Linked DNA regions of Homo sapiens. The protein of the gene in region 1 purifies or fractionates together with the protein of each later gene. This does not show direct contact. Each region holds a gene or a part of one and is shown in the gene's direction. Other genes may lie near its edges. The genes, in order: TENT4B, RBM6, ZSCAN25, RABL6, RSBN1L and TCTN3.

Region 1 (4,905 bases):
GGTTGGAGTGCAGTGGCGCGATCTTGGCTCATTGCAACCTCTGACTCCCGGGTTCAAGCAATTCTCCTGCCTCAGCCTCCCAAGTAGCTGGGATTACAGGCATGTGCCACCATGCCTAATTTTGTATCTTTAGTAGAGATGGGGTTTCTCCATGTTGGTCAGGCTGGTGTCAAACTCCCAACATCAGGTGATCTACCTGCCTCGGCCGCCCAAAGTGCTGGGATTACAGGCATGAGCCACCGCGCCCGGCCTCTCTCTGCTTATTTCTACACAGTGTTACCAATGAGATTGGTGTTACTGCTGGGCTCCAAAGCAATCAGACAGATTAAAGTAGATTGAATATGAAAGAATTTAGAGGCCTTTTTCCAAGTGATTTGTGCTCTATTTAATTTCTGTGCATTTGCAGATATAGCCCACAGTAATTCTTAGTGAACTAGAACCTTCAGGTTATTGAATTTTACTGATTTGGGTACTGACATGCGCTTTTAAGAAGACATTAGGTTTTCTATAGTGTAGATTGTACACTAACAATATAATTCATATTTAAGAATGTCTCAAAATTTAGTATACTGTGTTCAACTAACTTAACTTTCTTTGTTTTTTTTGTTTTGTTTTGTTTTTGTTTTTTGAGACGGAGTCTTGCTATGCCACCCAGGCTGGAGTGCAGTGGCGTGATCTTGGCTTACTGCAACTTCAACACTCCTGGGTTCAAGTGATTTTCCTGCCTCAGCCTCCTGAGTAGCTGGGATTACAGGCACCCGCCACCACACCGGCTAATTTTTGTATTTTTAGTAGAGACGGGGTTTCGCCGTGTTGGCCAGGCTGGTCTTGGACTCCTGACTCAAATGATCTGCCTGCCTTGGCCTCCCACAGTGCTAGGATTACAGACATGAGCCACTGCGCCCGGCCGCTAACTTAACTTTCATTCCACAACTTCCATCTTTTATCCAAAATCTGTGATCATTGAATACTGTCACCATTAATCATTGGCATTTCAGTGTTTGGACTTTTTTTTTCCCCCTTCGTCTTTGTGGACTCTTTTTTAACACTCATAAAGTTTTAACTATTGAAAAGCAAAGGAAACGGTGAGTGACTTTTTGGAGTCTGTCTACCCAGTGGTCACACAAAAGGCTTACTACATTACAGGAAAGATAGGATGGGAAAGGGATACTAGAAAATTCTAAGTCAGGAACGGGGGTGTGTATTAGAAAAATTCTGATCCTGGCATGCCAGATGGCCTTACATCTCAATTTCTTCCGTGAAATTCCTGCCAACAAATCATAGTGTTAGAAGTACAGAAGGGTCCATGGGAACAGAATTTAAGGGCTCCGTTGGTGATACGGAACTGATCAGATGGTTCTCACTTGTTCTCAGATAACCTGTATACTGAATATCACAGGAAGGGTATAGACGTCATGGCAGTGGTTAGATATTCTTGCACCTGCTGAAGCTGAGAAAATTAAAGTAATTTTTTTTCCTGTGGAAAGTAGAAAATCAAGCTTTTGTATGATTTCACACAGCTTTCTATTCTCTCTTTTGTTGACTCTGTTAAGAGTAACATTTAGTGGTGGAAACTATTTCAGGATCACACCCACAACACTAGAGACTGTATTAATCACTTACACACACATAGGTATAGAGTAATCTTGAAGGGGCTGTAGGCCAAAGATAATGCTTTTTTGAAGAATTAGAGACTAGTTACCAGCACCTGGTATTTGCTGTTTCCTACAGAGCTGACTGGACAGCCTAGAGTCTGCTGAGGAATTCAGAGGATGGCCAGTAGAATGTTCTTTCCACCCCAGAATATTTGGTAGGGACTCAGCTGCTGTGGAATGCCAAAAAGGCTTTGAGTTTGTTTCACTATTCTTAAGATTACACGTAATTGTTTTTTTGTAAGAGATTATATATATTCAAGTTGAGGATGGCTTTGAGTTAGACTTTCCTTAATTTGGAATCACACAGCAGATGATACATTTATTTCCATCTGATAAGTTACTTGATGATGTAAAAAGACATTTGAGTTAAAGATTTTTGGGAAAAAAGCTGAATGTTGAGCCATTTATGTTGTGTACTGGTTCCCTATTCACTTGGACAATTTTAAGTCTTAAAACAATCTTAACCATGTGCACAAGAGATTTCACATAGTATTTGGTAATTAAATTAAGGAATTCTAGCTCAAGTCATGCTTTTTGCTGAAATAGTTGTATATATTTAGTGCGGAAACCTGTGTTTTCAAATTAATGTAATAAAAGTTTCAATAAAATGGAAGCCTTTATTACCGTGTTTCAAATGCTATGCTAAACCTTTTCCATTTGTTATTATATTAACCTCCTCATACATAGCCCTACTAATTTTTTTACTTTCTATTTTGAAATAATTACAGATTTATAGGAAGTTGTGAAAAATAGTACAGAGCCCATGTTCCCTTCACCAAGTTTCACCTAATGGTAGTAGCTCACATAACGATAATTTAATGTCAAGAACCAGGAAATTGTCATCGTTGCAATCCATAAGCCTTTTTTAGATTTCACCAGTTTCACATGTATTTGTGTGTGTGTGTATATATATAATTGTATGCAATTTTATCATGTGTAGATCTGGATAGCCACTGTAACAGTCTATAGTTCTATATACAGAGCTACTCCATCACCTCAGGGCTCCCTATGCTACCACTTTATAGCCGCACGCACCCTTCCAGCAACCACTAATCTGTTTGCATCTCTGTAATTTTGCCATTTTGAGAATGTTATATAAATGGAATCATACAGAATGTAACTTTGGCTTTTTTTCTTTTACCATACTTCCTTTGAGAGCCATCCAAATTGCTGCATGTATCAGTAGTTCATTTCTTTTTACTATTGAGTAGTAGTCCATAGTATGGCTGAACCACACAATTTGTTTAACCATTTACTTATTGAAGGACATACCAGAAGGGTGGTTTCCAGTTTTTTGGCTATTGCAAATAAAGCTGCTATAAACATTCATGTATATAAATATTTTTATGTGAATATAAAGTTTTCATTTTGGGGGAATAAATGCCCAAATGTTTGGATTGTATGGTAAGTGCATGTTTGGTTTTTAGAGAAACTGCTGAACTATTTATTTTCTAGAATGACTATATCCTCTTATATTCCTATCAACAATATATGAGATATCCAGTTTCTCTGCATCCTTGCTAGCATTTAGTGTTACCACTTTTTTATTTGAGCGGTTCTAATATGTGTAGTGATAGCCTGTTTTGCCTTATATTAATCAATAAAAATAGCCTCATCTAATCTTAACTTTTTTTATTTTAAAACATCTTGGCAGTATTGAACTTTCTCAATGAAAAATCTCTAAAATTGTGACTTGAAAGGCTTTAATTTTCCAGTTTTTCTTTGGTTTTACTCTTAGCAGTAACATTTTAACTTTTTTTTGTCTTTGAAGTAATTTTCAGTGTTTCCTTTACATGTTGCTTTTTCTTAGAAACTAGTTACTAGCATGAAGTAGATCTTTAGCCTCGTTTTCTAAAAACATAAAAAAGTAAAACTGTGGGGTTTATTTCAAAATTGAGAGTCCTGTCTTTTCATATGAGGATATTTTATAGTCTGTTGGCTTGGCTATATTTTAGGGAGTAAACCTGTGGTTAGTGGTTTGTTGTTGGTGGTGGTAAAGTTTTCTTACAGTATTTTTATACCTGAATAATACCTTTAGACTCTATAGAATAGATACTTGATCTTCAAATCTATCCTAGAATAAATTGTTTTATCTAAACAGCTTTGTGACCTGAGAATTGGGACTTAGTCCCTTAGTTTTCCCTTACTGGCCCTTTGTAGTCACTGTTTTGATTTTGTGAAAGTAACTTAACTCTTAGCACTGTCAGGTATTGTACATTCCTGCCAAAGCAAGAATAAGAATACATAGGATTGTGTTTTAATTCTATAATTAGGTGACTTTTGGCTAATTTCCAGGAACTTGGACTTAATAAAGTACTAGTGATAAGTTTGGAAATTTTAGTGTCCTTGTTCTTTGAAGTTATTCACCCTTTACTTTCTTGTTTGTTTGGGGTGTTTATACTACTGTCCCTAAATATAGCTGAAATAAAGGAAGAAAAATAACCCCTGTAATATCACTACCAGGATATAATTTCTTTTTTTTTTTTTTTTTTGAGATGGAGTCTCGCTCTGTCGCCCACCATCTCGGCTCACTGCAAGCTCTGCCTCCTGGGTTCACGCCATTCTCCTGCCTCATCCTCCCGAGTAGCTGGGACTACAGGCGCCCGCCACCACACCCGGCTTATTTTTTGTATTTTTAGTAGAGACGGGGTTTCACTGTGTTAGCCAGGATGGTCTTGATCTCCTGATCTTGTGATCCACCTGCCTCGGCCTCCCAAAGTACTGGGATTACAGGCATGAGCCACCGCGCCCGGCCTGATATAATTTCTGTTAACAGTTTGATGTAAATATTTTTTGACTTTTTAGTGTTTTTATATATATATATATTTTATGTTTTTCTTTTATCAATACGCACTCTTACTGTGGGAATAATTTTAATGTTTTTAAAGAGTTGGGTTTTATTTGTTTATTTTATTTTATAGAAATGGGGTCTCGCCGGGTGCGATGGCTCACGCCTGTAATCCCAGTACTTTGGGAGGCCAAGGCAGGAGCATCACCTGAGGTCGGGAGTTCGAGACCAGCCTGACCAACATGGATAAACCGCCTCTCTACTAAAAATACAAAATTAGCCGGGCGTGGTGGCACGTGCCTGTAATTCCAGCTACTTGGGAGGCTGAGGCAGGAGAATCACTTGAACCCGGCCGGTGGAGGTTGCAGTGAGCAAAGATTGTGCCATTGCACTCCATCCTGGGCAGCAAGAGTGAAACTTCATCTCAAAAAAAATAAAAAATAAAAAAGAAAGAAAGAAAGA
Region 2 (4,905 bases), on another chromosome or scaffold:
TTTGTATTTTTAGTAGAGACGGGGTTTCACCATGTTGGTCAGGCTGGCCTTGAACTCCTGACCTTGTGACCCGACCCACCTTGGCCTCCCATAGTGCTGGGATTACAGGTGTGAATCACTGCACAAGGCCTGCAAACCTTTATTTATTTATTTATTTTTGAGACAGAGTCTCGTACTCACCCAGGCTGGAGTGCAGTGGCGCAATCTCGGATCACTGCAAGCTCCGCCTCCCAGGTTCACGCTGTTCTCCTGCCTCAGCCTCTCTAGTAGCTGGGACTATAGGCGCCCACCACCATGCCCAGCTAATTATTTGTATTTTAGTAGAGACGGAGTTTCACCGTGTTAGCCAGGATGGTCTCGATCTCCTGACCTCGTGATCTGTCTGCCTCAGCCTCCCAAAGTGCTGCGATTACAGGCGTGAACCACCACGACCGGCCCAAACCTTTCAAAAGTGCAATTTGAGCTAGGCATGGTGGCTAACGCTTGTAATCCCAGCACTTTGGGAGGCCAAGGCAGGTGGATCACCTGTGGTCAGGAGTTCAAGACCAGCCTGACCAACATGCCGAAACCCTGTCTCTACTAAAATTACAAAAATTAGCCACAGGTGTGGTGGCACATGCTTGGAATCCCAGCTCCTTGGGAGGCTGAGACACTAGAATCGCTTGAACCCAGGAGTCAGAGGTTGCAGTGAGCTGAGATCTCGCCACTGCACTCCAGCCTAGGCAACAGAGTGAGAAAAAAAAAATTGCAGTTTGGTGCCCAACTTAACGTAACCTGTTAGTAAATGATTTCAGATCTTATTTTCACCAGAGGAAAGAGATAGGGTTGTGGGCTCCTAGGCTAAAGTGGCTAAGTGGGCAGCTGAGCAGAGGTCAGTATATTGTTATTTGGAATACATTTAAGGATTAAGGATGTTAGGTTGAAAAAGAGTCTTTATGACATCAGTCTGTGTGGCAAACCTTTCTCCCACTCCTACTTCTTTGAAGTTATTGGGAATCATTTGCTCTATTGTTTTCTCTTTTACATTCTGTAAGCATTTCAGGATTTTCAAGAGAAAAACATTTGTTAAAATAACAGTAAAAACATAAATAGGAGAAAATAATCAGGATGTGGGGAACATTTTATTATTTTAGAGGAATAAAACTACCAGCTTCTCAAGCACTTATCTTTAATGTAAATTTCTTTAGAGAAATTTCAGGTAGGCAACTTCGAAGAGTCAGACACATGCATCCATAACAACAGTCCTGTAGTCATCCCTTAAGGAAAGCCACAGCATGACCATAAAATATAGTTCAGTGCAGGGATTCAGGTAGCCTTCTGTTTGTTGCAAGGTTAGAGTTTAATGTGCCTACAAGGAGTTTCTTAGGTGGGCTTTTGTCCTCTTGTGGAGATTTTACTCTGGTGAAGACTGAAAGGCAGGTGTTCTGAAAATCTTTAGGGGAAGGCTGTGTATGTTCTAGAAACCAAACCAAAATGTGGGAAGGAGGATGAACAACTGAGATTTTTGCTTGTTAGGTCACTTCAGGTTAGGCAAAGTTGTGTTTTTTTCCCCCCACAAGAAACACTTTTTTTCAAAGCTATTCCAGCAAATGAATAGATAGTTTTTTGTTTTTTTTCTTTTTTTTTTTGAGACGGAGTCTTGCTCTGTCACCCAGGCTGAAGTGCAGTGGCGCAATCTCGGCTCACTGCAAGCTCTGCCTCCCAGGTTCACGCCATTCTCCTGCCTCAGCCTCCCAAGTAGCTGGGATTACAGGCACCCGCCACCGTGCCCAGCTAATTTTTTGTATTTTCAGTAGAGACAGGGTTTCACTGTGTTAGCCAGGATGGTCTCGATCTCCTGACCTCGTGATCTGCCCGCCTCAGTCTCCCAATGTGCTGGGATTACAGGCGTGAGCCACCGCTCCCGGCCATGAATAGATAGTGTATGAAAACCACTGGGCACCATACCACTAAGATGAGACAGCTTTAATCTGGAAACCTGTCACTGCTATTATGTAATCTCTATATTGCTCTCATATAATACCTCTTTTTGAGCCACATGGATTCCAGTGAACCCTCCAAGAATGAATTAGTTACAAGAATGTGCCCCTAATTATAAAACAAACTATAAAGACAAATTATCCTGCTGTAGTAGGACATTTGAAATAAATCATTTATATTTTGAAGGACGTCTGCCCATTATGTTTATTTGCATATAAAGGAGCTACGTGCAGATAGGGTCTGTTCCTAGCTTCACTGGAGGAGGGCCTGTGGTCTTACAGGATATGAGTAGCTGTTTGAGCACTGTAACACTGGAAGAAGCAAGGCTTCTAGATGTGTGTTTGGGATATGTGTTTCTACTAAACCTTAAGTAAGGGCCATATCTTCGGTAATTTTGTCCCCAGATGTGTTGTTATCATTGATTATGATAGTCAGGTTCAAGGTGTCATGAAGGATTTGTTATATTTAAATGTTTAGTAGGTGATATAGAGATTTCATAAGATTACATTTTTTAAATGCTTGGATAGTTTCTTCTGTGAACTATTTCATGTCCTGTCTCAGCTTCACTTAAAATATTTTGTCAGGAACTGTCAGAGGACTTTTTATTAGATATTTCTGAGATAATATTAAAAGCATTCCAGGCCGGGCGTGTTTGCTCACACCTGTAATCCCAGCACTCTGGGAGGCCGAGGCAAGTGGATCACCTGAGGTCAGGAGTTCGAGACCAGCCTGGCCAACATGGTGAAACCTCGTTTCTACTAAAAATACAAAAAATTACCTGGGCGTGGTGGTGGGCACCTGTGATCCCAGCTACTCTGAAGGCTGAGGCAGGAGAATCGCTTGAACCCGGGAGGCAGAGGTTGCAGTGAGCCAAGATCATGCCATTGCACTTCAGCTGGGCAACAAGAGCAAAACTCCGTCTCAAAAAAAAAAAAAAAAAAAAAAGGCATTCCAGTATGAGTATTTGCTGGCAGGTAAGGAGAAATTACAGTAGCAGTGTTTTTTCTTTTTTTTTTTTTTTGATAAAGCTTTCTAGAGATTCTCTTTGTTTCTGTTCCACTAGTGACAGAGGCCAAGCAAGAATTAATAACCTACCCTCAGCCTCAGAAAACATCCATACCAGCACCATTGGAAAAACAGCCCAACCAGCCCCTAAGACCAGCTGATAAGGAACCTGAACCCAGGAAGAGGGAAGAAGGCCAAGAGTCACGCTTAGGACATCAAAAGAGAGAAGCAGAAAGGTATCTGCCTCCTTCTCGAAGGGAAGGGCCAACTTTCCGAAGAGACCGAGAGAGGGAGTCATGGTCTGGAGAGACACGCCAGGATGGAGAGAGCAAAAGTAAGTAGTTTGTCAGGGCACATACCAGACTGTGATCATCACAATGGAGCATAGATGGCCAATGTTATGTCCGGGAGCTATCTGCTTTCCAGTACCCTGAGAGATCTGTGCATGACCTGATGACAGAGGCCATTGCTGTCTGTGGACCTTCCTGTACTGCTTAAAGGAATCTATGCCCTTCAAATAGTAAATTGCTATATGAATGCAGTAAGGCATGATTTTAGATTTCTAAGTATTGGTGAAGAAAAGTATGCAGTATTTATTTGTTTAGCATTTTTTTACAGAACCAGCCTTGCTAGTAGCATCTATAGTAAAAAATGACAGTCAGATTCTTGGGACTTCAAAAATTTATCTTTCTCTCCCTTGTGTTGCCCTTCTCCCATTTATGGTTGATTCAGCTATCATGCTAAAGCGTATCTATCGTTCCACACCACCTGAGGTGATAGTGGAAGTGCTGGAGCCCTATGTCCGCCTTACTACTGCCAACGTCCGTATCATCAAGAACAGAACAGGCCCTATGGGGCATACCTATGGCTTTATTGACCTCGACTCCCATGCGGTGAGTTTCCTCCACCTTGGATTGGCCTAGAGACAGATGGCTAAAGAACCTTCAAGAAGGTTTGACTGGGGGCCGGGCCTGGTGGCTTACGCCTGTAATCCCAGCACTTTGGGAGGCCGAGGTGGGTGGATCACGAGGTCAGGAAATCAAGACCATCCTGGCTAACACGGTGAAACCCTGTCTCTACTAAAAAATACAGAAAAATTAGCTGGGCGTGGTGGCAGGCGCCTGTAGTCGCAGCTACTCGGGAGGCTGAGGCAGGAGAATGGCGTGAACTCCGGAGGCGGAGCTTGCAGTGAGCCGAGATCGCGCCACTGCACTTCAGCCTGGGTGACAGAGCGAGACTCTGTCTCAAAAAAAAAAAAAAAAAATTTGAGGGACTTCTTGATCATTTGAATTCTTGTGTGCTACCTGATATCATAATCCCTCTTGCTCTCTCCTTTGGGTTTATTGTTCATTCAGGTCAGGTGACAGCCCTCAAAAGTTAGGATCCCGTCTGGTTTTCTAGGTTCATTTTTTTCTTGTGTCATTTACTGTTTCCAACTTACTCGCTTGTGAAGAATCTGAGTACTGAATCCTTCATGATTTTAGTGAACTTTCTGATTTATTTTGTCCAGCCACAGATGGTTTTATATTTGATGATAAAACATTTCCTCTTTTTCCTCAAAGTATTTATAGATTCCTGTGGCTTAAATTTTTAGTTGCGGGGCCTTTTTCTATGGAAGTAAGGTGAAGATAATGAAAGTCATTGGTATTTCTTAGATTTTTCATGCTCAAAAGTCACAAGGGACTTTGTAAACTGAATCTGATTGATGATAATTGCAACCTAAAAGAAGAGGATTTGAATTTCTGAAGTTTATGCCAGAACTGACATCTATTCTGATTCCTGTTCCAATCAGTCCTTCATTAAAAGTTGCCTGTTTCTGCCAGTATGCTCTTACTGTTAAAATTTTGACAGAATATAATGTAGTAAATTTATCCTCTGAGAAGGAAAATCCACGTTCACTTCTCTTTCAAAGGAGAATTT
Region 3 (4,386 bases), on another chromosome or scaffold:
CTGTTCTGGAGACTGGTTCTGTCCTTGTCCCCTCACCAGCTCAGTGTCTCAGAACTCAGAGCAACTCAAGCCCATACCTGAACATTTCTGCCGCCAGGTGACACGAAGGCCTGTTTCCCAAGTGTACCATTCACTTGCTGTCCCAGCTTTCAGGTCTTCCTGGGATTCACACTCGGGTTGTCCTGGTGCTTGTACTGACAGCTGCTTGGGGCTGGGCCTGAGCTGCTTCACCTGTAAAGAGACTGAATGCACAGGGCAGGGTTGAGCTAGGTGGCTGCCCAGATCACTTCCAGTTGTTCGTCTGTTCTCATTAGCAGACGGTGAGGTGCAGACCTTGTTGTCTGGGTTGTAATTGCAGTAATGTCCACAAGGACTGGAGCAAGAACTCACAACAGGATTTGGAATCACAGAGGCAAAAAGTAGCAGGTGCAGAAACCTGAATGCAGGACTCTGCAGGCTGGTTCCCAGGATGGTGAGGGTCCTGGAGTGAAAGATGAGTGCTCAGAGGAGTAAGGAGGAGGCAGGAGTGAGTAGAGTGAGGCCGCTGAGGAGTCCGTGAGGACTCTGGGTCCTTGTTTAAAAATTTTTTCTGCGCAGAGTAATGTGATGGAGGTTTTACTTGAGGAAAATTGGATTGACGGCAGGGTACGGCCAGTCTGGAGGGTTGAAATAGTGTAGGCACTGGGGTAAGAGCAGGAACCAGGCCAGTGGTCATGTAGAAGGGGGTTTACTGAAATATGCTTCCAAGGATGGGCCACAGATTGGCCAGAGGGGAGGAAAGAGAAGAGTCAGAGAGGAGTCTACGTCTTAGGATCCTGGCTAAGGGCCTGGAAAAATTATGTTACTACTGTCAGAAAGAGAGGGAAGCATTTTCCTAAGAGGGAGGAAGAATGGAAAGTTCCATTTGTTGACTTTGAGATCTAAGTGGATGGTCCCTGGAAGTAGCTGCAAGTCAGGTACATGGTCTGGGAGTTAAAATAATATCATGAACCATTGCATTCCTGCTCCATGTGTGCAGTAAACTTCATGAGTGTACAATCCATTTTGAAGGTGGTGAATGTAAGGCTCAGAGAGGTTAATTGATTTTCCCATGATCACACAGCAATTGAGCAGCCAGTGCAGCACTCAAAACGGGTTTCTCACTGCTAGGTCCCTTCTCTTCCACTACTGTGTCTTTCTCCCAGTGTCTCTGTTTATACTTAGGTATCATTGTATTTATTTTTCCCCCAGCTTTATATTTTGAACTCTTATTATACAAATTTTCAAACATACAGAAAAGCTAAGACTAGTACAGGGAACACACTTAGGTCTTTATCTACATTCACCAATTGTTAACATTTGCCATATTTAGCTGTATAATGTGTGTTTTGTTTTGGAATGATATGGAAGTTGGAGGCATCTCAATCTTTCATTTGTAAATACTTCAGCATTTGTCTAACAATGACATTCCCAACATAGCCCAGTAGCATAATTTCATCTAAGAAAATAAACATAAATTCGATATATGTAACATCTAGTGCATAGTCAGCTTTCCCCAAGATCTAGTTGTGGTTTGTGCATTGCATTTAGTTTTAATCTTACTATTCATAACACCTCAAAACTGAAAACTACCCAAATGAACAACAGTCAAATTAATAAGTAGGTTGCAGTCTATCTGTATCTGTATATCTATCTATATATACATACACACACACACATACATATACTCAGTGGAATACTGTATACCAATGAAAAAGAATAAACTACAGCTTCACACCATGATATAGGTGAACGTCACAAACATGATATTGAGTAGAAGAAGCCAGAAACAATGTGTGAGACAATTACCTGAAGTTCAAGAACAGGCAAAAAAGTCCAGACAATGTGTTCCCGTTGGTATAGTATATATGTATACTATATACGTATATCATGTATATGCTGTATACGTATATCTCGTATATGCTGTATACGTATATCTCGTATATGCTGTATACGTATATCGTATATGCTGTATACGTATATCTCGTATATGCTGTATATGTATATTGTATATACTGTATACATGTATATGCTGTATATGTATATACTGTATATGTATAGTATATATATGCAGGGTATAGTGATGGAGGAGATGTAAAAGGGGCTTCTAGGGACTGGTTATGTTCTGTTTGTTGAACTGAATGCTGTTTACGTGGTTGGGTTCGTTAAGAAAATTCTTTGCATAGTGTGTGGTGACGCACACCTGTAATCCCAGCACTCAGTGAGGCAGAGGCAGGAGGGTCACTTGAGCCCAGGAATTCGAGACCAGCCTGGGCAACATAGTGAGGCCCCCATCTCCACAAAAAGGAAAAAAAGGGTAACGTGACATTTTTTAGCCAGCGCTGGATCCAAAAAAATAAAAATAAAATCTTTGCGTGTACAAAACATAAATGGCTTGTACACTTTTATTTTCATGAAAAGTTTACAAAACAAAATCCAAGCTGATAAGTATGTATTTCATATTTTATCAAACCAGGAGGCATATACTGTCAGGTTTTTTTTGTCTTCTAGTCATCTTGCCTAAAAGGACTCTTCCGCTTTAAGCACCACTTATTTCTCCTTTTCTTTTTTTCTCTTTGCCTCTTTGTTCCCCAATACCTTTTCTTTTCTTTTTTTCTCCTCCCCTTTCTGTTACTCTTCCATAAACACCTGTTCCGTTAATTTAGAGAGAATATAAGAAGGATCAGAGTGAGGATGAAGGAAGGGTGAAGCTGAGCATTTCAGCAGCGTCATGGTCTCAGTCCTGATAAATATGCTACCTAGGGGCGTTCTCCTGCAGGAGCCTCAGTGAAGCCTGCTTCATTCATTCAGCCAGCAGTTAGCAAGCATCTTCCCTGAGTCAGTCCCCTGCCAGGCTCCTAGGAGACCCAGATGAATGAACCTGGTTAGGCAGAGGGAGCATGTGGGCAGGACAGGGGACTGAGCAGGCACCTGGAAGGTCTGGAGAGCTGTGTGCTGCCCTGTGCTACAGCAGGTGTAGAATCGTTTGGGGAAGGCGCAGGACATCTGGATGAATGGAAACAGCATTTCCAACAAAGTCACATGTAAATAGGTACAGAATAATAAAGTGCTAGTTAGGTGCACAGTGCTGAAGAGGCCCAGAGTAAGAGAATAATCGTGGTGAGTGTCTTAGAGGAAATTATTGAGCTACATTTTGTAAGAAGTAAAGGTCTAGATTAGCAGCAAGATAAGTGGGCGGGCACTGGAATTTGGCAGACTATTCTGTAAAAAGACATGGAGGTGGAAATAAGGAAAAAGAAGTAAGGAAAGCCTGAGTTGAGGTTGTTGGTCAAAGGAAAAAAGAGAAGGAACCATGAATGGGACCCCTGTGAAGCAGAGTTCTAACATGTAAATGTCCTGCGGCTACCACAGAATCAATCTTTATCTCCTCCTGTCCTGTAGGCGGTGGGAGCAAGGAAAAGGAGGCAAAACCCCCACAGGAAGACCTGAAAGGGGCGCTGGTGGCACTGACATCAGAGAGGTTTGGGGAAGCCTCTCTCCAGGGCCCTGGGCTCGGAAGGGTCTGTGAGCAGGAGCCTGGTGGCCCTGCAGGCAGTGCGCCTGGGCTTCCTCCTCCCCAGCACGGTGCCATCCCCCTGCCTGACGAAGTCAAAACCCACAGCTCCTTCTGGAAGCCTTTCCAGTGCCCTGAGTGTGGGAAAGGATTCAGTCGGAGCTCCAATCTCGTCAGGCACCAGCGAACCCACGAAGAGAAGTCTTATGGCTGTGTGGAGTGTGGGAAGGGCTTTACCCTGAGAGAATACCTGATGAAGCACCAGAGAACCCACCTGGGAAAGAGGCCCTACGTGTGCAGCGAGTGCTGGAAAACCTTCAGCCAGAGACACCACCTGGAGGTGCACCAGCGCAGCCACACTGGGGAGAAGCCCTACAAGTGCGGGGACTGCTGGAAGAGCTTCAGCCGCAGGCAGCACCTGCAGGTGCACCGGAGGACGCACACCGGGGAGAAGCCCTACACCTGCGAGTGTGGCAAGAGCTTCAGCAGGAATGCCAATCTGGCGGTGCACCGGCGTGCCCACACTGGCGAGAAGCCATATGGGTGCCAGGTGTGCGGGAAGCGGTTCAGCAAAGGGGAGCGGCTGGTCCGACACCAGAGAATCCATACAGGGGAGAAGCCCTACCACTGTCCTGCCTGCGGGCGAAGCTTCAACCAGAGGTCCATCCTCAACCGGCACCAGAAGACCCAGCACCGCCAGGAGCCGCTGGTGCAGTGAGCATAGCAGGTGGCAGGCAGCACCATCATTCATCTTTCTCACTGCAGGGCCTTGCGGGGTGCAAGGTGATGGCTGCAGGAAAGCACTGGTCCCATCGCCTTCCCACCCATTCGCCAACGCGGGAAAGGCAAGGCCT
Region 4 (4,905 bases), on another chromosome or scaffold:
GGACTACAGGCACCCGTCACCACACCCAGCTAATTTTTTGTATTTTTAGTAGAGACAGGGTTTCACCGTGTTAGCCAGGATGGTCTTGATCTCCTGACCTCGTGATCTGCCTGCCTTGGCCTCCCAAAGTGCTGGGATTACAGGTGTGAGCCACTGCGCCACTGCGCCCAGCCAAAACACTTGTAATTCATCCTGAGTGACTTTGTAAGGGAGATTTGTAGCCAAAAGTATTCTCACATCTTGCTCTTTCTTACTGTCTTTTCCTTTTGGTTTCTCTAGTTTAATTTCATTGCCAAAGTCTTTCAAACCAGCGAGTTCCAAGGCTCTTTCCAGGTCTTCAGCAGCTTGAAAATCCACATAGTCAGATTTCCTTGTCATACCCATTCTGACATCCACAACAGCAAGATCATTTTTAGCAAAAATATCATGGATACTAGTTTTTGTTTTTCTTTCTTTTTCGAGACAGGGTCTTGCTCTGTTACCCAGGCTGGAGTGCAATGGTGCTCACTGCAGCTTCCACCTCCCGGGTTCAAGTGATTCTCCTGCCTCAGCCTCCCCAGTAGCTGGGACTACAGGCACGCACCACTACGCCCGGCTAATTTTTGTATTTTTAGTAGAGACAGGGTTTCATTATGTTGGCCAGGCTGGTCTCAAACTCCTGACCTTGTGATCTGTCCACCTCAGCCTCCCAAAGTGCTGGGATTACAGGCGTGAGCCACCAGGCCTGGCCCATGGATACTAGTTTTTAACTCAGGAGCAGACTTGTTAAAGTTCAGGTTTCCAACAAAGATTGAAAGACGTTCCAGCCTGGCCAACATGGTGAAACCCCGTCTCTACTAAAAATACAAAAATTAGCCGGGTGGTAGTGGTACACGCCTGTAATCCCAGCTACTCAGGAGGCTGAAGCAGGAGAATCACTTGAGCCTGGCAGGTGAAGGTTGCAGTGAGCCAAGATTGCGCCACTGCAGTCCAACCTGGGCGAGAGAGTGAGACCCTGTCTTAAAAAAAAAAAAAAGGCACAGTTGGTTCTGTGCTTCTCACTCTCCACTTTGTGTTTCTTGGCTTCAGAAGCTGCTGTTTGGTCATTTCCTTCATTTTCCAGGTGCTTCTTTGACAGACCCTTCCTCCTCTTTGTCGTCTTCATCACTTCATCCTCTTCATCATCGTCACCCTCGTCCTTGTCCTCATCATCCTCTTCATCTTCATTCCCAGCCATCCTCTTGGCTTTCCCAGGAACAGCATTTGTAGAAGCTTTCTTTCCTTTGGCTGGTGTTGTTTCCATAGGTGCTGCTTCAGAGCCATCTTCCTCAGCATCGTCCTCATCGTCCTCGTCCTCATCCCCTGAGGCAGGGGCACCCGCTGCTGCCTTCATCACTGCTGGTTCAGAGTCATCCTCCTCCTCATCGCTGTCTTCCTTCTTGGCGTTCTTGCCGTTCTTTGCCCCCTTGGCTGGGGTGTCCCTTCTTGCCAGGAGCTGCTGCCAGTGCTTTGCCTGCTATGGCTCCCTTCTTGGCAGGTGTGGCGACTGCTTTGCCTGGAGTGACAGTTGCTTTCTTGGTGGGTGTGGCACCTGCAGCCTTTTTTGTTCGGGAAACTGTCACCTTCTTGGCTGGGGTTGCAGCAGCCTTCTTGCCTTTCTCCTGAGGTGTGACAGTCTCTTCTCCACAGCTGTCATCTTCTTCATCTTCTGACATTTCCTCATCTTCACTTCCTCCTTCTGCCTCCTTTGGGGGAGCAGCCATTTTCTTGGGGTCACCTTGGTTTTTACCTGCCTCGACACCAAGTAGTCTGAAGCTGCTGAGGATGGGAAATCTTTGCAGGGTGCAGAGTGGGAGAGGAGCAAGGTGTGGCTGACACCAGCTGCAGCACAGGCTGTCAGGGTGGGGAGGTGGCTGGGCCCTTGTAATGGGCCCAGGAGATGCTGCTGGCACTGTGAGAGGGCCTGGTTAGGAGTTAAACCTTCATGCATCTGAGATAAATCATAAGCTCTTCTTGGTATGAAAATGTAAGAAAATTATTCCATATTTTGCAGGAAAGCTGCAGGAATGTGAAGGAGTTAAATTGAATCAGGGTAAGAAAGGCTCAGGGCCTCAAATAGAGCTCTGTGTTTTCTGCATTGTATCTTCTAAAACAAGCTTAGAACAGAGGTCGTGTTCACATCCCGTTTAGTAAAAGAGCAGGTTTACCATGAGGTTAAGTACAGGTAAGTACAGGGCTTCTTAGCGTTTCTTGGATGAATCCTAAAGGTTTTCCAGGAGAATCACTTAGCTTATTGCAGCCAACATTTAAGATTCTGAAGTTAAGCAGAAAAAAAGAAAACCCAAGATCAAGGGACCAGCAGGAGAAAAAAAAGATTCTGAAATTGATTTTATTTATTTAGGGTCTTGCTCTTTCGCCTGAACTGGAGTGCAGTGGCGCAATCTTGACTCACTGCAGCCTTCACCTCCCTGGCTCAAGCAATCTTCCCACCTCAGCCTCCTGAGTAGCTGGGACTACAGGTGCACGCCACCATGCCTGGCTGAGTTTTGTAATTTTTGTAGAGACAGTGTTTCACCATGTTGCCCAGGCTGGTCTCAAACTCCTGGGCCCAAGCGATCCATCTGCCTTGGCCTCCCAAAGTGCTGGCATTACAGGAGAGAGCCACTGCGACCAGCCTAACTTTTTAACTTAAAAGTAGAGGTTAAGTTGGGCATGGTGCCTCACTCCTGTAATCCCAGCACTTTGGGAGGCCGAGGTTGGTGGATCACTTGAGGTCAGGAGTTTGAGACCAGCCTGGCCAACATGGCAAAACCCTGTCTCTACTAAAAATAACAAAAATTAGCTGGGTGTGATGGGCACATGCCTGTAATCCCAGCTACTCAGGAGGCGGAGGCAGGAGAATTGCTTGAGCCTGGGAGGTGGAGGTTGCAGTGGGTCGAGATCGCGCCACTGCACTCCAGCCTGGGTGACAGAGTGAGACTCTGTCTCAAAAAAAAGGGGGGGGGGGTAATTTTTTAAAATAATTAAATCAGATTATTTTACTTGCCTTATTTCTGATGTTACAGGATTTCTTGTAATTAGCTTTTTTAAAAAAGAGTTTGTGGCCATATAGTAGGTGTGTATATGGGTAATTAGCTTTTAAAAGGAGTAAATTTCATTTCAAGGGAGAGAAAATAAGACTCTTCATTCTCAAAATGTGAAGATAATAGAAAACAAATGTATGTTAAAATTGATAAAGATGTAAAAGGAAGCAATCTTAAGACTAGTCAAGACTGTATGCCCATGATATGTGCAATTATTATGTCAATTATAAATACAAAAAACCATGAGCAGACAGTTTATGTTTGAAAAAGAAACAGAATGAAAACCTCTAGAAATGAAAAACATAGTCATTAACGTTAAATCAGTCAGCAGCAGGAGAAGCAGCACGAGAAGCAGCACTAACTCAGCTGAAGAGAGGAGCAGTGTTGGGAAGAGATGTGCGGCCCAGGGAGGAGGCGATGCCAGCCCATGTCCAGTACAAGTTCCAGAAGGAGAAGAGAGCAAGAAAGGAGAAAGGGAAGACTGAGGACTTTCCAGAGTTCATGAAATACAGGAAACTCCAAGAAGTCCAGAGTTTAAAAACATCCACAGCTAGATACATCATTGGAAATTTTCAAAACATTAAAAAGTAAACATCTTAGATGCAACCAGAACAAAAAGACTTCCCTGAGAGGAGCATGCAGTGGACTGGTGACCAGCTCGCAGCAAACCTGTGGCTGAGGGGAGGCCGACGTGGGCTGAGGGGAGGCCGACGTGGGCTGTGGGGAGGCCGACGTGGGCTGAGGGGAGGCCGACGTGGGCTGTGGGGAGGCCGACGTGGGCTGAGGGGAGGCCGACGTGGGCTGAGGTCTCTGTCTGATGAGCACTTGAGAGCCGTGTGACTGGCTCCACTTCTGCCGAAGCTTGAGGCTCACTGTGCAAAGGCTCTTTTAGAAATAAATACTGAAGGTTATTCTTCAGAGAGGTGGAGTTGAGCTCGAAACACAGGAGTGGATTTCAAAAAGCAAAGGGGGCCGGGTGCTGGCTCACACTTCTAATTCCAGCACTTTGCGAGGCTGAGGCAGGTGGATCACTTGAGGTCAGGAGTTTGAGTCCAGCCTGGCCAACATGGTGAAACGCTGTCTCTACTGAAAACACAAAAATTAGCCGGGCATGAGGGCAGGCGCCTGTAATCCCAGCTACTCAGGAGGCCGAGGCACAAGAATCGTGTGAACCCGGGAGGCACAAGTTGGAATGAGCTGAGATCGCGCCGCTGCACTCCAGCCTGGGCAACAGAACAAGACTCCATCTCAAAAAAAAAAAAAAAAAAAATGACGGGCACAGTGGCTCACGCCTGTAATCCCAGCACTTTGGGAGGCCGAGGCGGGCAGATCACGAGGTCAGGAGATCAAGACCATCCTGGCTAACACAGTGAAACCTCGTCTCTACTAAAAATACAAAAAATTAGACGGGCGTGGTGGCGGGCGCCTGTAGTCCCAGCTACTTAGGAGGCTGAGGCAGGAGAATGGCGTGAACCCAGGAGACGGAGCTTGCAGTGAGCCGAGATCCCACCACTGCACTCCAGCCTGGGCAACAAAACCAGACTCTGTCTCAAAAAAAAAAAAAAAAAAAAAAAAAAAAAAAAAAAAAAAAAACCAAAGGTAAGCAAAGAAACTGGTAAATATGTGGTGAAAATGAAATAAGTGTTGGTGGGTCAGGTGCGGTGGCTCACACCTGTAATCCCAACACTTTGGGAGGCCAAGGTGGGTGGATCACGAGGTCAGGAGTTCACGACCAGCCTGGCCAACATAGTGAGACCCCATCTCTACTAAAAAAAATACAAAAATTAGCCAGGCATGGTGGTGCGTACCTGTAGTCTCAGCTACTCGAGAGGCTGAGACAGGA
Region 5 (4,905 bases), on another chromosome or scaffold:
TACAGGCTGTACAGGAAGCATGATGCTGGCATCTGCTCAGCTTCTCGGGGGGGAGCTCAGGAAACTTTCAGTCACATCAAATGGATAGAAAAGAGTTCATTTGTAAATAATGAGCAAGTGAAGTGTATTTTAAGGAGAGGAAATACCTTTGCCAGTAGAGTTATGTTTTATAAGAAATTGTAAATAAATAGTTCAGTTTGACCAGAGTATGAGGTACTTGAGGGCACTGTCTTTGGATTCCAGACTGAAGAGATTATAGGTAGACATTGAGAGCTCTTGAAAGCAGTTTAGCTAAGGAATGAATATGATCAAAAGAATACATAAAAATTATAGAAAGGTTAATATGGCTGTAGCATTCAGGATGAGAGACAGTTATGCAGCTGTTAGACCAAAAATTAAGACAGTGGCATCAAGGAATTCAGAAGTAATCAAGGATGAGCTGGATAATTCTGTCAAATCACGGAGACACCAGAAAAAATGACTTGAGTAAATATGACTGGATTTGATATTTCAACATTCTGGGAAAGCAAATTTAAACAGATTGAAAACAGAACCAGAATTTAAGCAGTAAGAATGATAAGGTGGTAAAGGAAAGACACTAGGCATAGATGATTCTTTTTTTCTTTATTTTTTTCTTTTTGGGATAGGGTTTCGCTGTGTCACCCAGGCTGGAGTGCAGTGGCACGATCTTGGCTCACTGCAATCTGCCTCTCAGTTCAAGCAATTCTCCTGCCTCAGCCTCCCGGGTAGCTGGGATTACAGGTGCTCACCACCATGCCCAGCTAATTTTTGTGTTTTTAGTAGAGATGGGGTTTTGCTCTCTTGGGCGGGGTGGTCTCGAACTCCTGACCTCAAGCAATCCACTCACCTCGGCCTCCCAAAGTGCTGGGATTACAGGCATGAGCCACTGCGCCTGGCCTGAAGATTGTTTTCTAAAATATTCATTCATCTCCTTATTTCTGTAAACTGTGAGCATTTGCTATATGTCAGAATGGTAGCACACACTGTAGATGTAACTTTGCTCTATGCCCGTCTGTCTGTCTGTCTGTCTCTCTCTTTCTCTCTCTCTCTCTGTCTCTCTCTCGCTGTGTACATGAAGAGACTGGCTGGCTGGGTGTGGTGGCTCACGCCTGTAATCCCAGCACTTCGGGAGGCCGAAGCGGGCAGATCACGAGGTCAGGAGTTTGAGACCAGCCTGGCCAACATGGTGAAACCTTGTCTCTTCTAAAAACACAAGAATTAGCTGGGCATGGTGACGCGCTCCTGTAATCCCAGCTACTTGGGAGACTGAGGCAGGAGAATTGCTTGAACCCAGGAGGTGGAGTTTGCAGTGAGACAGGATTGTGGCACTGGATTCCAGCCTGGGCGACAGAGCAAGACTCTGTCTCAAAAAAGGCTGACTAAATATTGATTATCAATTCTGTAAAAAATGAGTCCTAAATATATAATTCTGAGTAAATTTTCAGAAGTAAACTTCTTACTTAGACAAAACTGTTCCTAAAGCATGGTTTTTAAAGTAATTAAAATATGGAGTTTCAAAAAACATTTTTTCCAACAGGTGGGAAGGAGAAACCAAAAACAAATATAGAAGACTTACAAATTAAAAAGGTAAAGAAGAAAAAGAAAAAGAAACACAAAGAGAATGAAAAACGGAAGCGTCCGAAAATGTATAGCAAATCTATTCAGACCATCTGCTCAGGATTGCTAACTGATGTTGAAGATCAAGCAGCCAAAGGCATCCTAAATGATAACATAAAAGATTACGTTGGGAAGAATTTGGATACCAAGAACTATGATTCCAAAATTCCAGAGAACAGTGAGTTTCCATTTGTCTCATTAAAGGAGCCACGAGTTCAGAATAACCTCAAAAGGTTGGACACTTTGGAATTTAAACAACTCATTCATATAGAGCACCAGCCTAATGGAGGTGCATCGGTTATCCATGCCTACAGTAACGAACTCTCCCACCTGTCTCCTATGGAGATGGAGAGGTTTGCAGAAGAGTTTGTGGGTCTAGTGTTCAGTGAAAATGAAAACTCTGCAGCTTTCTACGTGATGGGTATTGTTCATGGGGCAGCTACTTATTTACCTGACTTTTTAGACTATTTTTCATTTAATTTTCCCAATTCACCAGTGAAAATGGAGATATTGGGAAAGAAAGATATAGAGACAACGACTATGTCCAATTTTCATGCTCAGGTAAGAGGTTTTTAGTTTTATAAAATAACTTTTAATTATATATTTTTAGATGAGTTTCTGTTTTTTGTTCCTAATTATAGGGCTGAAATAAAAAGGTAAGAATATAATGAAACCATTTGGGAGTATTAAGAGTAAATTACTTTCTTGATGTGAGCATCAGAATTTAAAATTCAATTTTCACTTATGTATGTTTTTTTTTAAAGACAATTAATGAAATAATTAAGATTCTGTGTTTTTTTTTTTTTTTTTTTTTTTTTGCAAGGAGTGGTCTTGAACCTAAGGAAATGAATTTAGCCATGTATTTTCCAGTCCTTAAATAGTTTTCTTACCTGGAAATCACCTAAAATTGTCTTCTAGCTTTAGGATGCTTTAAGGTACTTAGCACCAGGCCCATCACATGGTAGGTACTGAAGAAATGTTGGCCATTAAAAATATTGTGGTATGAAGGAATCATCAGTTACTGTGTAATGATGTGTTAAAAGTAGCAATCAGTATATTGAGCTAATTTTCATTTCCTACCCTTCTCTATGGTGGAGAATATATATTATTCTGGAAAGCAGACAGAATAGAGTCTGCTGGGTCTTGAACATCAGTGTGGGCCCATCTGAAAGGCTGGTGCCATTATCACCCATCCTCAGATTGGGACTGTTTAGTCTGGAGATTGGCCAGTTCTCACATTTATTGATGCTGTAGTTTTTGGTTTTCTAGGAACGGTTTTTGGTTTCTAGGACAACATTCTAGTTTGGAAGGAGGGAAAAAGTAAAGGAAGTCTCAAATGGATCTTAGTGATTATTTATCCCAACACCTCTCAATTTACAAATAAGTAAACAGACGTAGAGAGAGAGGAGTAAGGTATTGTTTAACATTGTCAGCAGTGTCAGGATTAGAACAAAATCTTAATCTTCATCCAGGGCTCCTTTCCTTATTCTGAATATGTTCCTTTTTGGATGGGTGCTCAAGTTATAGTTTCCACTTTAAATGGTAGTCTGGATGTTCAGTCACATCCACATGTACCCCGCCCCCAATAGTATGAGTATGTTTGGTGTATATTCTGTAGTAGATTGTAGTCTGGAAAATAATGTGGTGTTTTTTTGTTTTTTGTTTTTTGAGATGGAGTCAGACTGGAGTGCAGTGGTGCGACCTTGGCTCACTGCAACCTCTGCCTTCCGGGTTCAAGCGATTCTCCTGATTCAGCCTCCCAAGTAGCTGGAATTACAGACATGCACCACCATGCCTGGCTAATTTTTGTATTTTTGGTAGAGACAGGGTTTCGCTATGTTGGCCAGGGTGGTCTCGAACTCCTGACCTCAAGTGACCTGCCTGCCTTGGCCTCCCAAAGTGTGGGGATTACAGGCGTGAGCCACCTCGCCCGGCCTGGAAAATAATTTTTAATGTGCGTATGTGGGAATTATTCTCTAACATGTTTGAGAATTGAAAATTAAATATTTTCTAAACTAGATAGGGAGCTATAGAGCATCCATTACTAGCCCTGTCATTTTATAGAAACCCAAAATGGTGAGTTACTTGTCTGAGGTTACACCTGAATATAATGGCAGAATCAGGACTGGCATCTAATAATAGTGTTTACTATTTATTGAGTACTGACTGTGCCAAGGACTAGTTGTTCTGAGTATTTTATATGTAGTAACTCATTTAATCCTCATTATAATCTTACTTTAGCAGTGAAGAAACAGATCCAGTGAGAGAAGAGATAACATGTTCAAAGTGCCTTATCACCTTATCATTCATTTGTCGTTTATTGCATGTCTCCTAAATGTCCGGTTTTCTATTGGGCCTCTTGGCTCCCATTCCCGGTTATTTCCACAATACCACAAACTTTCTTGCTTTGATACTATGCAAGTTTGCTTCAGTAACCTTTTAAATGTGACAGTACATTGATGTGCATCACATTACATGCTTTTCAGATGGTTTTTCAAATAAGTTTAGGAATTATTTTATACTAAATGATAAAAATTTTCATCTAAACTATCTAATATGTACACCATGAAAACTGCTTTTGTTACTAAATAAAATGAGATGCTGGACTTGTTAATCATGGCAGTGTGTGCCTGGGATGTGGATCTCAAGTCCTTGATGAGCCACCTCCTCTGGTTGTCACCATGTCTTCGGGCTTCTTGGGTAATATATATTGCAAAGAGGAAACTCCAGGCAGATGGATCCTGTTTTTTACCAGTTGTGGTTCTGGCCCCATATCTGTGTGATCTGCTACCCTGGTGACCTAAGCATGTCAGCTGCAGGGACTACTTTTGCTTCTTTAGCTTTAGACTTAAAGGCAGGAAAGTACATGTGCAAGGCCCGTATTCCTTTTATCACAAGATTCTTCAGATCTTATTCCTGTGAGTGGGGAAGTTGTTGTGTGCAGATTGGGGAGGTAGCCTTTGATTTGTCCTTAGGCACTGGCTTTATGAAACTGAATGGGATCCAGAAGAGAGAGCAGTAGGAGAAAAATGAGCATGCTTCTTCTTGCACAGTTCTATTTCTCATCCCTGGAGTCCTCCCAGTTAAAGCTCTCTCAGCCTACATTGAAGTGTCCCTCCAGGAGTTGATTTTATTTAGTAAACTTTTTATTGAAGTGTAATGTATGACATAGTATACATATTATAAATGTATAACTTGATGAATCTTCACAGGGAACACACCCATGATTTTAAAAAGCCAAATATTGTTAATAGCCAGAAACCATCC
Region 6 (4,905 bases), on another chromosome or scaffold:
GGTAATACAAGTATATAAATTTGTAAAAATTCTTTGAGTTTACACTTAAGATTTGCACCCTGTATATTATGCTTCAATAAAAATATTTTTTAAAATTAGTTACTTGGCATGTTTTTCTTTTATCTAAACGCTTTTTCTTTTAAAAAACATTTTAGCAAACTTAAACTATTTCCAGAAGCTTCAAAAGGTCAATGCAACCAACTTCCAGGCCCTGGCTGCAGAGTTTGGAGGCGAATCATTCACTTCAACATTCCAAACTCAATCACCACCATCTTTTTACAGGGTGAGCCTGGGGAAGGGGATGGGATTGTTTGGTTTAGTTTTTACTCTCACAGCAGACAGCTGACAAGGTAACTTTGCAGCACTACCCTGCAGCTAGCTAAACCATTGTCAGCTCTTTGGAGGGCAGTACTGTCCACGTAATCATGCCCTTGAGTTAACCTTGTTTCTACTCTTTCTTTTCTGTTGTAGTTTAGTCCAGTCTCACTGTGAACAAAGTTTCTTTTATATTTTATTCAGGCTGGGGACCCCATTCTTACTTACTTCCCCAAGTGGTCTGTAATAAGCTTGCTGAGACAACCTGCAGGAGTTGGAGCTGGGGGACTCTGTGCTGAAAGCAATCCTGCAGGTGAATCCAGAGCAAAAGTACCAACCTTTTCATTCAATTTAAAACAGGCTTTCTCATTTACCACTCTCTTAATTATTTGTGTTTAAGGTTTCCTAGAGAGTAAAAGTACAACTTGCACTCGTTTTTTCAAGAACCTGGCTAGTAGCTGTACCTTGGATTCAGCCCTCAATGCTGCCTCTTACTATAACTTCACAGTCTTAAAGGTAGGTGTCCTTTCTCTCCCTACACTGTCACTACTATGAAGTTGAAGTGAACATGCTTCTCACTGTTGTGGGTTGTGGAAAGAGCATTGAATAAAAGTCAGAATCCCCAGGAGCCACGTAAAAGACAGAGGGCCTGGAAACCACATCTGAAGACAAATGAAATAATTGGGGATATATATGCAGGATAAGAGATCATCACCCTTCTCACTAATGGGATTGGCTTGCGAGGGTGGAAGGGGGAAAACACCCATCTCACCAAACTTCTTGCTTTTGCTATTCAGTAGAGCCCTGTCAGAGTAAATAGGCATCACAGTCTGTCACCCTCCTGCCTGGCTCCACTTCCTGGCATTTTAGTGTAAAGAAGAGTCAGGTGGAATAGAGGAAGTAAATCATTCTAATATATTGACTCCCCTGCCCGCCAAACCAAAGCCTATTGGTAGTAATATGAAACCACAAGCTCCTGGTGATTTTTGGTAAGGTATATGCACATTCATGTCCCTGCTGTTCTCCTAGGTTCCAAGAAGCATGACTGATCCACAGAATATGGAGGTATGATGCTGTTGTACCAGGAAAAAAGAAAAAGAATATTTGGCTCCTCTGCATCTGAGGCAATTTTAGTCTAAGTTGTACTGTTGAAAGATAAATGTAAGCGTGATGTAGCAAACAATTAAGTAGGGATCTAAAACGGTGCCTTTGCAAGTACGTCCTATACAGTTAATAGCCTCGTATGAAACCAGGATCCATAAGGTGTTAGATAAGTTTGTAAACATTGGGTTAAATAAACTATATTTAGGGTGGGCTTCTTAATTTTTTTGAGAGACAGGGTCTTGCTCTGTCACCCAGGCTGAAGTGCAGTGGCACGGTCACAGTTCACTGCAGCCTAAACCTCCTGGGCTCAACTAATCCTTCTACCTCAGCCTCCCAAGTAGCTGGGACTATAGACGTGTGCCACCATGCCCAGCTAATTTTTTAATATTTTGTAGAGATGGGGATCTTGCTATGTTGTCCAGGCTGGTCTTGAACTCCTGACCTCAAGCAATTCTCCTGACTTGGCTTCCCAAAGTATTGGGATTATAGGCGTGAGCCATCTCACCCCTCCTGGAGTCTTTAATTTGCTAGAGGGCCTTATTAATCTCTAAGGGGAATACTGAATATAGTATTTCTAACAATTATTTGACTATGGAACCCTTGTTTTATATTTAATAGAACTAGTGTTCTGAGAAATAAGTTTTGAGAAGTGCTCGTTTAGAAAGACTTGAATTTAAGTTGTTGGCTGGCACTGGAAGAAGAGAGAGAGAGGGTGGTCAAGGGGAAGGAAAAATACTCATCTTAGCATGATATCTATTAATAGATACAAGACAAAATACCGCCTTCAGTTTTAGTTAATTTGCTTCTTTTCGTTGCTAGTTCCAGGTTCCTGTAATACTTACCTCACAGGCTAATGCTCCTCTGTTGGCTGGAAACACTTGTCAGAATGTAGTTTCTCAGGTAGGGATACTGACCTCAGATTCTGGACTGATGTGTGTTAATCAACACTGCCAGAGGTGCCTCATCTTCCATTAAGTATCAGACTGACCCAACTGAATTTTGTTTGCATTCTCTAACAATGTTGGGAATGCAAACTTGTTGTATTGGTAGATTCTTGGTTGCAATCCTTGGTAAAAGTAGCATATTGTGAATTTCAACAATTCCCAACAAGTTTGAAATTAAACTTGTCAATAATTGAGCCCATTATCCTCCCTACCACGTTTCAGTTATTTCCATCACCACCATCCTCCAGTATTTCAGGTCCAGGACATTAAAATTATTTCTGACACCTCTTCTGTTGCCCACTTGCAGTCTGTTACTGATTCTTACTGACTGACCACATTTTATTCTCTTGACACAGTATCATCTGAAACTCTGAAGTAGATTAATCAACTTGTATTCCTCTGTTCTCTAAACAATCTAACCTTAAAAAGTAAGAATTATCTTAAAGCATCTTCTTAAAGACTATGCTCAGAAATTTAAGGTTACTTTCAATTGCCTGCAACTTGTATCCCCAGCAATGATCTTTATTAATTCTCAAACATTGTGAGAGCCAAGTAAACCAGATTTCTGTTCCATGCTCACCTCTGCCTGTTTCTACTTGCCCTCCTCTGTCCGTAATCAACTTATTTTTCTTCCCTTTCAGTTCCTACCAAAAACTCACCTACCCGTGAACCCTTTTAAAGAGCTCTATCCAGTTTCTTTTTCATATACAAATATAATATGAAATCATCTTTATCTTTCATAGTATTTGTGTTTGGCATTTTTAACATTACTGTTTCAGTCTGCCTCATTTAGTTATAATAACACCCTTGAAGACAGAAAATCTTCTGTCCTAAACATATTCGGCCCAATAACTACTTTTTATTAATTGATTCTTTTTGCATTTCAGGTCACCTATGAGATAGAGACCAATGGGACTTTTGGAATCCAGAAAGTTTCTGTCAGTTTGGGACAAACCAACCTGACTGTTGAGCCAGGCGCTTCCTTACAGCAACACTTCATCCTTCGCTTCAGGGTTAGGGCCCTTCTCTTATAGGGGATTTAGAGGGGAAGAAATATTGGGTTAGAAATAATTTCTTTGCTTCTGTAATACATGTGAAATAGAATAAGAATATGAAGGCCTAGTTCAGTCTGTCGATTGAGGCCTCAACATTTAATATTCCATAATTTTACTACAAGTTGTGGTTATTCTACAAGTCTTTACTCATTAAAATTTTCTCCAATTCTCTGTCTGGCCCCCAACAAAGCAGGACTTCAATCTAAAATCAAAACTTTTTTTATAGTCATTTTGAATCATAAATTCAGCCAACACCTACAAAAATTCTTTAACTAGCTGTTCTCATATTTCTGGGCAGTCAGCATTTTACTCATTTCCCACTTAATCTGAGTGTTCACTCTTAATCACTGCCATTTGGCTTTCTGCTACTTCTTTCCTCTTTTTGAACCCAGCATAGATTTTCTCAACTCTACCCTCAGGTGATCAACCAACTGCTGTGTCTCTCAGAGCTCATCTCTGGAACATCTGTAGTTAATTAAAATATATATTTTTTAATTACATTTAAATTTTTCAGATTTTAACCAGGCTGTGTTATTATTGCTAAATTGCTAGTAATTTTTAAGGGATCCTTAGTAGATTCTTGGTTGTAATCCTTGGTAAAAGTAGCGTATTATGAATTTCAATATTCAGATCATGAAGGATTTATTTTAGTAAATTTAAAAAAGTGAAAGAAGCAAAATGCTACACTGTGGAAAGAAGCCAGATTGTTCAGTGTAGCTCACTTATTGCATTTCCTTGCCTTAAGGAAGGGTACGGTGAAGCCAAGCAGTGGGAGGTGGGAAAGTATGCTTATCTCCATAATTGACTTCTCTTCCCTCTTTCTGCAGGCTTTTCAACAGAGCACAGCTGCTTCTCTCACCAGTCCTAGAAGTGGGAATCCTGGCTATATAGTTGGGAAGCCACTCTTGGCTCTGACTGATGATATAAGTTACTCAGTATCCTTTTTAGAGCTGGGTGGCCTGTTGCAGCCTAATGAGAAAAGCTGCAAAGGCTTTCAAACTTATGTTAGACTAGCCAAAGGTGAGGAATTTTTTGTTCATTATAATGAGGTACTTATATACTAATATATGGTTAATCATTTTTGGAATCTAGTTGTCTCTCTGTGGTTTTCTGAGGAAAAAAATCACAAATTTGTGACTCGAACATTATGATAGTAATACAAAATAAATAGCATTAAAGGAGAATGAGAACATAAATTTTGCAATGCTGCCTCCTTTTTTTTTCTGTTATGATGTCCTTGATCATCACTTTTCCACCTTGGATGACCCTCTTACAGAGCCAGGGTAATGGAAGTTGCTCTGTTAAAAGACATGAAGTGCAGTTTGGAGTGAATGCAATATCTGGATGCAAGCTCAGGTAGTTCTTTGCTTCCGCATCATTTCCTGCAATTTCGGGAATATGTAGGGAATATGTTGATATGGTAACTTTTATATTTTTAATGACAGTTCGGAAAATGCTAGTCAGGAATAGTCTTTTAGTCTAAATAG

What was found.
Region 2: the proteins of TENT4B (region 1) and RBM6 purify together in Homo sapiens (affinity purification with mass spectrometry, with the first as the bait; one large-scale study listed by BioGRID). This does not show direct contact.
Region 3: the proteins of TENT4B (region 1) and ZSCAN25 purify together in Homo sapiens (affinity purification with mass spectrometry, with the first as the bait; one large-scale study listed by BioGRID). This does not show direct contact.
Region 4: the proteins of TENT4B (region 1) and RABL6 purify together in Homo sapiens (affinity purification with mass spectrometry, with the first as the bait; one large-scale study listed by BioGRID). This does not show direct contact.
Region 5: the proteins of TENT4B (region 1) and RSBN1L purify together in Homo sapiens (affinity purification with mass spectrometry, with the first as the bait; one large-scale study listed by BioGRID). This does not show direct contact.
Region 6: the proteins of TENT4B (region 1) and TCTN3 purify together in Homo sapiens (affinity purification with mass spectrometry, with the first as the bait; one large-scale study listed by BioGRID). This does not show direct contact.

Annotation. Positions count from the first base shown.
Region 1 is NC_000016.10:50,159,289-50,164,193, forward strand, and holds part of TENT4B (terminal nucleotidyltransferase 4B), read left to right. Parts: intron 1-4,905. UniProt on the Homo sapiens protein: Terminal nucleotidyltransferase that catalyzes preferentially the transfer of ATP and GTP on RNA 3' poly(A) tail creating a heterogeneous 3' poly(A) tail leading to mRNAs stabilization by protecting mRNAs from active deadenylation.
Region 2 is NC_000003.12:50,054,685-50,059,589, forward strand, and holds part of RBM6 (RNA-binding protein 6), read left to right. Parts: intron 1-3,043; coding exon 3,044-3,319; intron 3,320-3,717; coding exon 3,718-3,878; intron 3,879-4,905. UniProt on the Homo sapiens protein: Specifically binds poly(G) RNA homopolymers in vitro.
Region 3 is NC_000007.14:99,625,771-99,630,156, forward strand, and holds part of ZSCAN25 (zinc finger and SCAN domain-containing protein 25), read left to right. Parts: intron 1-3,420; coding exon 3,421-4,250; 3' UTR 4,251-4,386. UniProt on the Homo sapiens protein: May be involved in transcriptional regulation.
Region 4 is NC_000009.12:136,813,750-136,818,654, forward strand, and holds part of RABL6 (rab-like protein 6), read left to right. Parts: intron 1-184; exon of another isoform or gene 185-426; intron 427-733; exon of another isoform or gene 734-801; intron 802-1,020; exon of another isoform or gene 1,021-1,782; intron 1,783-4,905. UniProt on the Homo sapiens protein: May enhance cellular proliferation. May reduce growth inhibitory activity of CDKN2A.
Region 5 is NC_000007.14:77,747,866-77,752,770, forward strand, and holds part of RSBN1L (lysine-specific demethylase RSBN1L), read left to right. Parts: intron 1-1,558; coding exon 1,559-2,199; intron 2,200-4,905. UniProt on the Homo sapiens protein: Lysine-specific demethylase that specifically demethylates methylated lysine residues of proteins.
Region 6 is NC_000010.11:95,682,970-95,687,874, reverse strand, and holds part of TCTN3 (tectonic-3 isoform a precursor), read left to right. Parts: intron 1-155; coding exon 156-283; intron 284-519; coding exon 520-628; intron 629-715; coding exon 716-831; intron 832-1,344; coding exon 1,345-1,380; intron 1,381-2,238; coding exon 2,239-2,319; intron 2,320-3,250; coding exon 3,251-3,376; intron 3,377-4,245; coding exon 4,246-4,353; intron 4,354-4,679; coding exon 4,680-4,774; intron 4,775-4,905.